Homo sapiens: one gene and its partners. The protein of the gene in region 1 purifies or fractionates together with the protein of each later gene. This does not show direct contact. Each region holds a gene or a part of one and is shown on either strand. Other genes may lie near its edges. The genes, in order: IQCF1, ABCD1 and SNX14.

What was found.
Region 2: the proteins of IQCF1 (region 1) and ABCD1 purify together in Homo sapiens (affinity purification with mass spectrometry; 2 studies listed by BioGRID and IntAct, with this or other methods). This does not show direct contact.
Region 3: the proteins of IQCF1 (region 1) and SNX14 purify together in Homo sapiens (affinity purification with mass spectrometry; 2 studies listed by BioGRID and IntAct, with this or other methods). This does not show direct contact.

Annotation. Positions count from the first base shown.
Region 1 is NC_000003.12:51,901,271-51,905,020, reverse strand, and holds the start of IQCF1 (IQ domain-containing protein F1), read left to right. Parts: upstream 1-1,667; 5' UTR 1,668-1,748; coding exon 1,749-1,751; intron 1,752-1,931; coding exon 1,932-2,036; intron 2,037-2,196; exon of another isoform or gene 2,197-2,228; coding exon of another isoform or gene 2,229-2,231; intron 2,232-3,750. UniProt on the Homo sapiens protein: Involved in sperm capacitation and acrosome reaction.
Region 2 is NC_000023.11:153,741,748-153,745,297, forward strand, and holds the end of ABCD1 (ATP-binding cassette sub-family D member 1), read left to right. Parts: intron 1-1,239; coding exon 1,240-1,324; intron 1,325-1,473; coding exon 1,474-1,599; intron 1,600-1,741; coding exon 1,742-1,988; 3' UTR 1,989-3,008; downstream 3,009-3,550. UniProt on the Homo sapiens protein: ATP-dependent transporter of the ATP-binding cassette (ABC) family involved in the transport of very long chain fatty acid (VLCFA)-CoA from the cytosol to the peroxisome lumen.
Region 3 is NC_000006.12:85,545,152-85,548,901, reverse strand, and holds part of SNX14 (sorting nexin-14), read left to right. Parts: intron 1-525; coding exon 526-601; intron 602-1,351; coding exon 1,352-1,396; intron 1,397-1,504; coding exon 1,505-1,585; intron 1,586-1,675; coding exon 1,676-1,790; exon of another isoform or gene 1,791-1,818; intron 1,819-3,750. UniProt on the Homo sapiens protein: Plays a role in maintaining normal neuronal excitability and synaptic transmission. May be involved in several stages of intracellular trafficking. Required for autophagosome clearance, possibly by mediating the fusion of lysosomes with autophagosomes.

The DNA of each region.
Region 1 (3,750 bases):
CTGCTGCCTCAGCCTCCCCAGTAACTGGGACTACAGGTGTCAACCACCACACTTGGCTAATTTTTTGTATTTTTAGTAGAGACGGGGTTTCACCGTGTTAGCCAGGATGGTCTTGATCTCCTGACCTCATGATCCTCCCGCCTCAGCCTCCCAAAGTTCTAGGATTACAGGCATGAGCCACTGCACCCAGCCCAAACTCCCATTTTTAAAACCATCAAATCTCTTGAGATTCATTCACTATCATGAGAACAGCACAGGAAAGACCTGCCCCCATAATTCAGTCACCTCCCACCAGGTTCCTTCCACAACACATGGGAATTGCGGGAGTTAAAATTCAAGATGAGATTTGGGTGGGGACACAGAGCCAAACTATATCACACCCACAACTTCCCACATCTTTCAATGTATTCCCATATTCTCCACCCCCTCATCCCATTAACTTCACATCCCAGCCTCAAATGGCCTCCTCCTCTTCCCTACATTCCCCCTACAGATCCACATTGGCCTCTCCCATACTCACCCTATACATTTCAAGTGCACTTCTCAGTGACCCCAGGGGCTGTGCCTCTCATGGCCTTACCCTGTCCAGCTGGGTCTTCAGAGGCCGAGATCAGGCAGAAAGGGGCCATGCTTGTGCAGTGGCCACCTTCATCCATCTGATTGTGGCCTTGAGACCCCAGGGACAGAGGAAGACAGGAGAGCACTTGGACCCATTTGAGCCTCAGATGGAGTCCAGGCTGGTCCTCAGGCCCTCATGGGGTTCCTTGGGGACTGTGTTAGGCATGAGTCAGCAATTTAACTCTCCTCTCCAAAGGTAATCATTGGTAATAGTTTGGTATATATACCTTTTTTCTTCTTTATATTCATTTACAACATATAATGTGTATCATGTAATAACTTCTGGCATAAATTATTCAATTTTATGTGTATAATTATGTTCCTAGTTTTGTTTGCATAGTGGGATCAAAAGGAACTTTAGTTTTTTACTTATAAATACATCTTTATATATTTCCTCATTAGTAATATAGATCAAATTCTTATTTTTAATAGTTATGTAGTATTTTATAGTATGAATGAACTATGCATCATTAAATTAATCCCCTATTGATTATTTAAGTTGGCTATATAAGTTTTTTCTTTTCTTTTTTTTTTTTTTTTGAGATGGAGTCTTGCTCTCTTGCCCAGCCTGGAGTGCAGTGGCATGATCCTGGCTCACTGCAAACTCCACCTCCTGGGTGCAAGCGATTCTCCTGTCTCAGCCTCCTGAGTAGCTGGGATTACAGGTGACAGCCACCACACCCAGCTAATTTTTGTAATTTTAGTAGGGACAAGGTTTTGCCATGTTGGCCAGGCTGGTCTCGAACTCCTGACCTCAGTTGATCTGCCTGCCTCGGCCTCCCAAAGTGCTGGGATTACAGGCCTGAGCCACTGCGCCTGGCCAAGTTTTTTCAATTAAATGTTATTAGAAATGACTGGCTTTTTATAAACCTTACAGCAATGGGCCAGTATTTCTGGCATCTTGCCTTTGAAGTCAGGGCTTTGGCCATTTCTGGCAGAAAAGAATGGGCAGCGCTTTTGTCTTTCCCTTGGAGGGGGCTCACTTGTTAGGAGCCATCTGGTGCCTGAGTCACAGGTGCCCTTATGACATCACAGGCCTTTCTTCCTCCACCCTTCCTGCCTATGCTATGGCTGGATGAACACAGATGTGAGGGGATTTGAACCATCTACAATCAATCCATATGTGACCAATGGTAAGAGAAAGCCAGACACACCAGGCTTGTTAGGGATGTCCCCATAGATCTCTCAGGGTGAAGGGACCCCCTGACACTGAAGACTCTAAGAAGCCCTGGAAGCTGGGGATGTGTGCCATATTGAATGGAGAGGGAGGGACCGCAGCCTCACTCTTGCCTTTCCCCTAATGCTGATTGCAGGAGGAGAAGCAGCCCCAAAAGACGAAGGAACCCTCAAAAGAAGATGAGCCTCAGCAGAAGGAGATGCCAACCCATTTGTCCTTAGGAGCAGAGTCAAAGGCAGAGGTAGGAGGAGCCCTGACTTGGATGTCATTGATCCCATGTCCTAGTGCTAGTAGCTAGTGTCTTTTGCATGGTGCTGTTATAAGTGAAGTTTCTGTGCCGCAAAAGAAATAGCACTCAAATATAAAATTTTCTTTTTAATTCTCAGCAAGGCAAGGTACTTCTATAGAAGGGTGCGCCCTTACAGATGGAGCAATGGTGAGTGCACACTTGGACAAGGGAGGGGAAGGGGTTCTTATCCCTGATGCACGTGGCCCCTGCTGCTGTGTCATTCCCCTATTGGCTAGGGTTAGACCACACAGGCTAAACTAATTCTGATTGGCTAATTTAAAGAGAGTGATGGGGTGAGTGGTTTGGTGGGAAAAATGGTTACCGCGGAGCAGGAAATCGGAATGAGTCAGGGTGGAGACTGAGCAGGTAATTGGAATGAGTCAGGGTGGAGCCGGTAATCGGAATGAGTCAGGGGGGAGTAGGTAATCAGAATGAGTCAGGGCGGAGCAGGTAATTGAAAAAGGTTGCTTTACAAGGAAGTTAAGTTTAAAAGTAGAAGGCAAAGAATTGAACATATTGACATACTGATTCTTTGAAGAGAAATTTAGAACTCATACCTAACAACTTCTCCTCTTGCATTTCCTTACAGCTCTTTCTCTTTAAACTTCTTTAACATGTCTTGGCTTAGATGTTCTGCTTGATTTTCCAAAAGAAGAAGCTTCTCTGGATAAGGTGGAGAATAGTTAAGGGAGGTTTTAGTAAGTGCTGTTTTTATGAGCCTCTTTGCACCAACCCACGGACGCATGGTGTGACACAGCACCCAACAAGAATAAATACACCCATTGCGGCTGCCAGGGAAGTGAGAATTGAGGCTATAATTCTTTTCCATTTACTGAACCACTTTTCTAGCCATCCTGTAAAGGGCTCATTTAACCCTGAGTTGTTGGCTAACTCATTGGACAGGGCAGTCAGACCTTGCAATGCCTTTGTTATACTTCCATCAGGGGCAGTGTTGTTTGGGATGAAGGTACAACATTGAGTTTTAATCATGAGGCAAACTCCTCCTCTTTCTGCTATTATCATGTCTAAGCCTATCCTATTTTCCCAAGCCATCCGGCTAGTAGCCCCTAATTGCTCAGCTATTCCTTTAACACCATCTCTAGTGTAGTTAATAAATCGCTGTTGGTTGTAGCATATGTAGTTTATTCAATCTATATTTTTATTAATTGTCTCTCAACAAAATATTGACTCAAATCCTGCAGCTATTTGATTTTAGGCTTTAAATTGATCTGGTATTCCCTGCTAGACTCCAATTGCATTTAAATAGATGTGAGAGTCAAAAGACCCATAAGGGGCTTCTCTCACTTTACGATGTCTTATTTTTCCTTCCTCTGGTTGATGAAATGCCAGGGTGAAAGGGATAGCCAATTGGACTAAAACACAAGTGCCACTTCAGATATTCATCAGAGCGTCCAGTAAAGGTCCACCACAATACCACCACACATCCCCTCGGGGATGAACAAGGGCTGACTGATTGATAAGCTCTTGAAAATTCTTAAGCTCACTGCATCCGTTCAGGTCTCCAAGGAATGCTAAGTTTCCTCCCTGTCGTGAGAGACATGAAGTGAACTTAGTATTGGGAGATGGAAGCTGGATGACCCTCGGGGGCCGACCCACAGGGTGCCAGACTTCAGAATATAGCAGAGAGAAAGAGCATGGCACGACT
Region 2 (3,550 bases), on another chromosome or scaffold:
GGCCGGCCAGCATGAGCCATTAGGATGGAGTTGAGCTGCGAGGAACAGAACGGGCCTCCCCGCAATAGTGGCTAAGATCATCTGTGAGTTTATCCTACTGAGCTGTTAGGTCCCAAGAGAGCCAGGCCACGGTTGCCAGGGCTGGCCCTGCTCTGTGAAGGCCCCAGGGCTCGAGGATTTTCTACCAGGTCACTCTGCTGTGTTTGGCCTCCGTTCCCAAAGTCACCTCATGATCCAGGAGGGCTGCTGCAGCCCTCACATCATGTCCCAGGCTGTAGGATGGAGGAAGTAGAAGGGAAGGGGCAAAAGGTATGTGCCTTCTTTTAAGGAAGGTTCCAGAAGCCGCCATATTGAATACTTACAGTTATATCTCATTGGCCACAACTTAGTCTCATGCTCACACCTCATCACAAGGCCACCTGGGAAGCGTAATCTCTACTCTGGGTGGCCATATGCCCTGTTGCCACTTCTAGCCCTGGGCCGCTGGGGAAGGCAGCATGGGCGAGAAGACAGGAAGGGCCGCTTCTGCCGCAGCGCCCCGACCTAATGGAGCAGCCGGCTCACCTGCTCGTTCAAGCAGCCCACTCGAGCCTTGCCAAAGTGCTGACACGGGGCAGTGACAGGAGGCCCAACCCCTGTGGGTGACAAGCCCCCGGTCTGGGGAGAGCACTCAGGCCGCTCTGGAGCTCTGTGCCAAGGAACTGTATGGGTGCCCTGGGGCTGCCATAAACCGCAGGGATGGATTGTCTCCTAGATCCAGCAGTCCGAGATCCAGGTGCCAGCAGGGTGGGCTCCTTCCGGGTGCCATGACAGAAGGATGTGTTCCAGGCCTCTGTCCTCGGCTCGCAGATGGTCCACTTCTCCCTGTATATCTTCACCTCATGTTCCCCTGTGCATGTCTTCTGCCCACACACCCCCTTTTTATGAGGACACAGTCATATTGAATTAGGGTCCACTCTGATGACCTCATCTTAGTGTGATCACCTCTGCGAAGGCCCTGTCTCCAAATAAGGTCACACTGAAGTGTTGGGGCTTGGACTCCACCGTATCTCTTCTGGGGGAAGGCACGATTCCAGTCCCCACTCCTCCATGATTAATGCCTGTCAGACAGACAAGGACGCAGAGGCACAGGGGCCCTGTCGTCACAGCTAGCTCATTCCCGCAGCTCCCCCAGCTCCCCGGCTGGCCCCCGGGTCTGGGTGCTGGTGGAACTGAGCCAAGACCATTGCCCCCGCCTAGGTTGGGAGGCTATGTGTGACTGGAAGGACGTCCTGTCGGGTGGCGAGAAGCAGAGAATCGGCATGGCCCGCATGTTCTACCACAGGTGAGCACTCCGGGCCGGCAGGCTCCCTGGGGTCCCCTGGAAGGGGAAGTAGCAGCTGTGGGGAGGCCTGGGCTCAGTGGAGCCTGAGCCGGGCTGGGGTGTTGGGCCCTGGAGGGTGCACAGACTCTCCTCTCGGCCCGGACCCCCAGGCCCAAGTACGCCCTCCTGGATGAATGCACCAGCGCCGTGAGCATCGACGTGGAAGGCAAGATCTTCCAGGCGGCCAAGGACGCGGGCATTGCCCTGCTCTCCATCACCCACCGGCCCTCCCTGTGGTAGGTGCCCTGTCTCCCTGCCTGGGGTCGGTGGGAGTGGCTGCCTGAGGGGAGGAGGTGGCCTGGCGGGCCCGGCAGCAGCAGGCGGCTGTCATCAGCAGCCCCCGTGCCGTGCCCCTGACCCTGTCCCTCTCCTGGCCAGGAAATACCACACACACTTGCTACAGTTCGATGGGGAGGGCGGCTGGAAGTTCGAGAAGCTGGACTCAGCTGCCCGCCTGAGCCTGACGGAGGAGAAGCAGCGGCTGGAGCAGCAGCTGGCGGGCATTCCCAAGATGCAGCGGCGCCTCCAGGAGCTCTGCCAGATCCTGGGCGAGGCCGTGGCCCCAGCGCATGTGCCGGCACCTAGCCCGCAAGGCCCTGGTGGCCTCCAGGGTGCCTCCACCTGACACAACCGTCCCCGGCCCCTGCCCCGCCCCCAAGCTCGGATCACATGAAGGAGACAGCAGCACCCACCCATGCACGCACCCCGCCCCTGCATGCCTGGCCCCTCCTCCTAGAAAACCCTTCCCGCCCTCGGGAAAGTAGATGTGGAGGGTGGCGCCCTGCGTAACCCTCGCCCTGTCCCTCCCACTCCCTGGGGGCGCTGTTCCACAGTGACTGGGCCCTGTCCAGGGCAGTGAGTCCTCTACTTTGCTCCGTGGAGGAAGCTGGGGTACAAGGGGCCCAGTGCTGGCCACACAGCAGCGCAGCCGAGCCCCAGGAGCCCGTCAGGCCACAGCCCCTGGCACTGCAGGTGGCCTCCCTCCAGAGACTCGAGTCCCCATGATTCCCTCCTCGTCAGTCTCTCAAAGACCCCATGGTCCATCCCCTGAGGGTGGTCAGCCAAGGCTCCCGTTCCGTGGGATGCCATAAAAGCCGCCCAGTGGGACCCACAGTCACACAGAGCGCCTCACCTGCATCCTCTCCCCCACAAGAGCCCCAAAGATCCCACGGGAGAGGGGAGAGGGACGCACAGCACTGCCTGCCAAGCGAGAATGCAGGCCCCGCCCCCTCGGCCCCTCACCACCTCTTTCTACAGCCTAATTTATTGGATTCCCTATTCGTAGCCATCTCCGTGGCCAATGTGACTACCGTGCCAGCAGCGGGGGCGGCCCAGCCTCTGAGTCCCGTGGGGCCCCGGCTCCCACCGGTGCCAAACCCAGCCCCTGCGGCCGTCACCCCGCCAGCCTACACTGCCAGCCGCCACCGGGGCACACGGGCCTCTGCTTGCCAGCCAGGAGTGCGGACACCATGTTCCCAGCTCAGTGCCAAAGAGGGGTCACCAGGGGGAGCTGTCTGCGGAGCCAGCGCCTGCCCGAGAGAGACCCCACCGCCACCGTGTGCCTTTCCCGGGCCCTCAGCCCTCGGGCCGGGCACCACCCCCAGTCCCCCCAGTAAAAGCCTCCACTGGCAAATGCAGTCCTTCCTCCCTGCCTCAGAGCCTGGTGGTGTCTGCTGTGGGTCTCGAGGAGAGATGGAGGAGAGGGAGTGGGTTGCCTGTGGGGGAAAGAGTGAGTTTGGGAAAGGAGTGGGCCTGACCCCCAAGCCCCTCCGAGGGGGAAAGTCACCAGAAGACATGGTCCAGCATGCCCTCCGCCGAGCCTCACGCCAATGCTCTTAGGATTCCTGTGACGGTGGCGGGGCGGAACCTGCAACAACATTGCACAGAAATACTGGCTGAGCCCAAATAGGACTAGGGGAGGGGATCATGCTGGTCCCTGTGGGAGGAGCACGAAGGCAAGAGAAGGGATGTCTAAGCTGCCACACAGGGTGCTGCTGGCCCTTCTAGGGAGAGGCGGCCACTTGTGCAGGGGCCTGGGGGGAACTGGGAGCACAGCGCAGGGTGTTCGTGCTGCATGCAGGGGAAGGGAGGGCAGGGGAAGGGAGGGCTGCGGCCGGCGGGCCTTGGAGGCCACACTACAGAGACAGGACTTAGCCCAGAGGCCACCGAGGAGCTTTCAGCAACAGG
Region 3 (3,750 bases), on another chromosome or scaffold:
TCTGCCTGCCGGATTCAAGCGATTCTCCTGCATCAGCCTCCCTATTAGCTGGGATTACAGGCATGCACCATCATGCCCAGCTAATTTTTGTATTTTTAGTAGAGACGGGGTTTCATCATGTTGGCCAGGCTGGTCTTGAACTCCTGACCTTGTGATCCCCCTGCCTCGGCCACCCAAAGTTCTGAGATTACAGGCGTGAGCCACCCCACCCGGCCGATAGAGAGTTTTTCCTAATGTCCCCCAAGTTCCTCCTGTTAAGGGAATACTTTTTCTTCTCTTAAGTAATATTCTATTTTAGCCAAGTAAGAACTCTAACTCTTTGCTATTCAACGTGTGTTCTGCAAACCAGTAGCATGAACATTGGTTGAGAGTTTGTTAGAAATGCAGACTTTTAGGGCCTAACCAAGACCTACTGAATTATAGTCTCCATTTTAACAAGATCCTTACGTAATTCACATGCACTTGAAAGTTAAGAACTAATATAAATCACTAAATATAAACAATTATTATTATTTCTTTTTCCAGATCTCTGACCTTACTTATAAGAGAGATTCTGTCTGGCTCTGTGTTCCTTCCTTCTTTGGATTTCCTAGCTGATCCAGTAAGACTTAAGATTTTTTTTTAAATTGTTACAAATTACACTTAATATAACATTTAGTATCTTAAACATTTTTATGTATATAGTCAGTGATACTGAAAACATTCATATTGTTGTGCAACCATCCCCATTCCCCATCTCCAGAACTCTTCATCTTATGAAATTGAAACTCTGCATCTGTTAACAATAACTCCTCATTCCTTCCTCCCTCCAGCCCCCCCTGGCAACCACCATTCTGCTTTCTGTCTCCATGAATTTGACTACTCTGGGTACCACATATAAGTGGAATCATAAGTATTAGTCTTTTTGTGACTGGCTTATTTCACTTAGCATAGTGTCTTCAAGGTTCATCCATGTTGTAGCATGTGTCAGAATTTCCTTCCTTTTCAAGGCTGAGTAATATTTCATTGTATGTGTATAACATGTTTTGCTTATCTGTTCATCCATTGATGGACACTTTGGATGCTTCTACCTTTGATCCAGTGAGATTTTGAAGAAACAAGAATGATTTAGAAATATTTTAAATGCCAAAATCAGAATAGCTTTTATTTGCCCATTTTCACAAAGGTTAAGAACCTGTTTTGTAGATGTAAAAAAACTCCTGCTGTAATACATATGTGCAGATTTTTTGCTACTGCTCCATTTATTTTTTCATTTTTCTAGAAACTTACATAATATGATACAAGTTATGAGAATTCTGGGGAGAATACAGTAGTGGAATTATTTTGACTTATGTTTATTATTTTCCACTAGGATACTGTGAATCATTTGCTTATCATCTTCATAGATGACAGTCCAGTGAGTATTGAATATATTAGAAAACACTTCAGATTGCATTGAATTTTGATTTTGTATGTCAAATCAAGTGGGAATTTTACTGAGTTAATAATTCTCTTTCTTTCAAAGCCTGAAAAAGCAACTGAACCGGCTTCTCCTTTGGTTCCATTCTTGCAGAAATTTGCAGAACCTAGAAATAAAAAGCCATCTGTAAGAATTTTCAGCAATAACACCTTTTTGATATAAACAATTTTAGAACTCATTTATATAGCTTAAACTTAATCTTTCTCTTATATCAAGGTGCTGAAGTTAGAATTGAAGCAAATCAGAGAGCAACAAGATCTTTTATTTCGTTTTATGAACTTTCTGAAACAAGAAGGCGCAGTGCACGTGTTGCAGTTTTGTTTGACTGTGGGTGAGGCTTACCTGTGTATTTTACGAAAGTAATTTTTAAACCTTTTAATGTATTTGAATATTTTAAATCAGATCTGATGTTGTGGTACCCATCTATCATTGTACTAAATTTCATATACTCGATTTCCTTTTTTTTTTTTTTTTTTTGTTTGAGGCGGAATTTCACTCTCGTTGCCCAGGCTGGAGTGCAATGGTGTGATCTTGGCTCACTGCAACCTCCGCCTCCTGGGTTCAAGCGATTCTCCTGCCTCAGTCTCCCAAGTAGCTGGGATTACAGGCATGTGCCAGCACCCCAGCTAATTTTGTATTTTTAGTAGAGATGGGGTTTCTCCATGTTGGTCAGGCTGGTCTTGAATTCCCGACCTCAGGTGATCCACCCACCTCGGCCTCCCAAAGTGCTGGGGTTACAGGCGTGAGCCACCGCGCCCGGCCATATACTTGATTTTCTAAGAGCATATGTGGGTTTCTCTCAAGTGCCCACTTCTTTCCAGATTGGGAAATAATCTGTCACTAACTTCATTCAAATCCTAGTAGCAGAAAAAAAAAATACTAAAAGTACAGTATAATGAAAATATATTAAAAACCCAAACTGTAGCCCATGTCAATATCACTTTTTCACAGTTTTTGTAAAGGATTGTTTTGACTAAATTATCAAATATAAGAATACCTCATTTTAATTATAAGCTCTGTAGCATTATAGATTATTGGATTTATAAGAAACTTTATAGACTGAAAATATTGTTTTTAATGCATTTAATTTCTTTTTAAAATATAACTTTAAAAATGAGGTATAATTTATATAGTGAAACACATGGAATTTAAATGTATAGTTTGATCAGTTTTGCATGTGTGTACATCCACGTAACCTGCATCTTTATCAAGATCTAGAACATTTATTTCCATCAGCCCAGAAAATTCCCTTAGGATCCTTCCCAAGAGATCCACTCTTTCCCCTACTCCTGCCAAAGCAATCACTGGTCTCATTTCTCTCAGCACAGATTAGTTTTGCCTGTATAATTTTTTTTATATAAATTGAATCACATAATATGTACTCCTTTGTGCCTAGCTTCCTTCACTCAGGATAATGCTTTTTAAAGTTCATGTATGTTTTTGTCTAAATAAGTAGTTTGGGCAAGGCGCAGTGGCTCATGCTTACAATCCCAGCACTTCGGGAGGCCGAGGCAGGTGGATCACTTGAAGTCAGGAGTTCGAGACCAACCTGGGCAACATAGTGAAACCCTGTCTCGACAAAAATACAAAAATTAGCTGGGCGTGTTGGCTCATGCCTGTAATCGCAGCTACTCAGGAGGCTGAGGCAGGAGAATTGTTTGAACTTGAGAGGTGGAGGTTGCAGTGAGCCGAGATCATGCCACTGCACTCCAGCCTGGGTGACAGAGTGAGACTCTGTCTCAAAAATAAATAAATAAATATGTAGTTTGTTCTTTGCTGAGTGGTATTCCATTGTATGAATGCATATATCTTTTAAACTTCATTATTAGGTGCAGACACATTTAAGATTGTTATATCTTCTTAATGAATTTATTCTTTTATCATTATAAAATGCTCCTCTTTTATCTTTGGTAATTTTTAGTCTTGAAGTCTGCTTTGTCTGATGTTAATATAGCCACATCATCTTTCTTTATATTTGAGTGTTCATTTGTATATCTTTTTCTATCTGATTGAAATGTTTAATGTATTTCTAGTAAGCAGCACATAGTTTCTCTCACTTTAAAAAAACCTAATTTAGTAATCTTTGCTTTTTAATTGGTATCTGTAGTACATTTACACGTGATATATTTATTATGTGTTTATTGTTAGGCCTTACATCTTGGTGTTTGTTTTATATTTGTCCTGTATATTCTTTGCCTTTCTTTTTCTCCTTTGCTGCCTTTCTTGAGGTTATTTTTTAGTATTTTATCTTTCCTATTTTTTTGAGTGTGTTCTGTTACTTTTTTGATTGA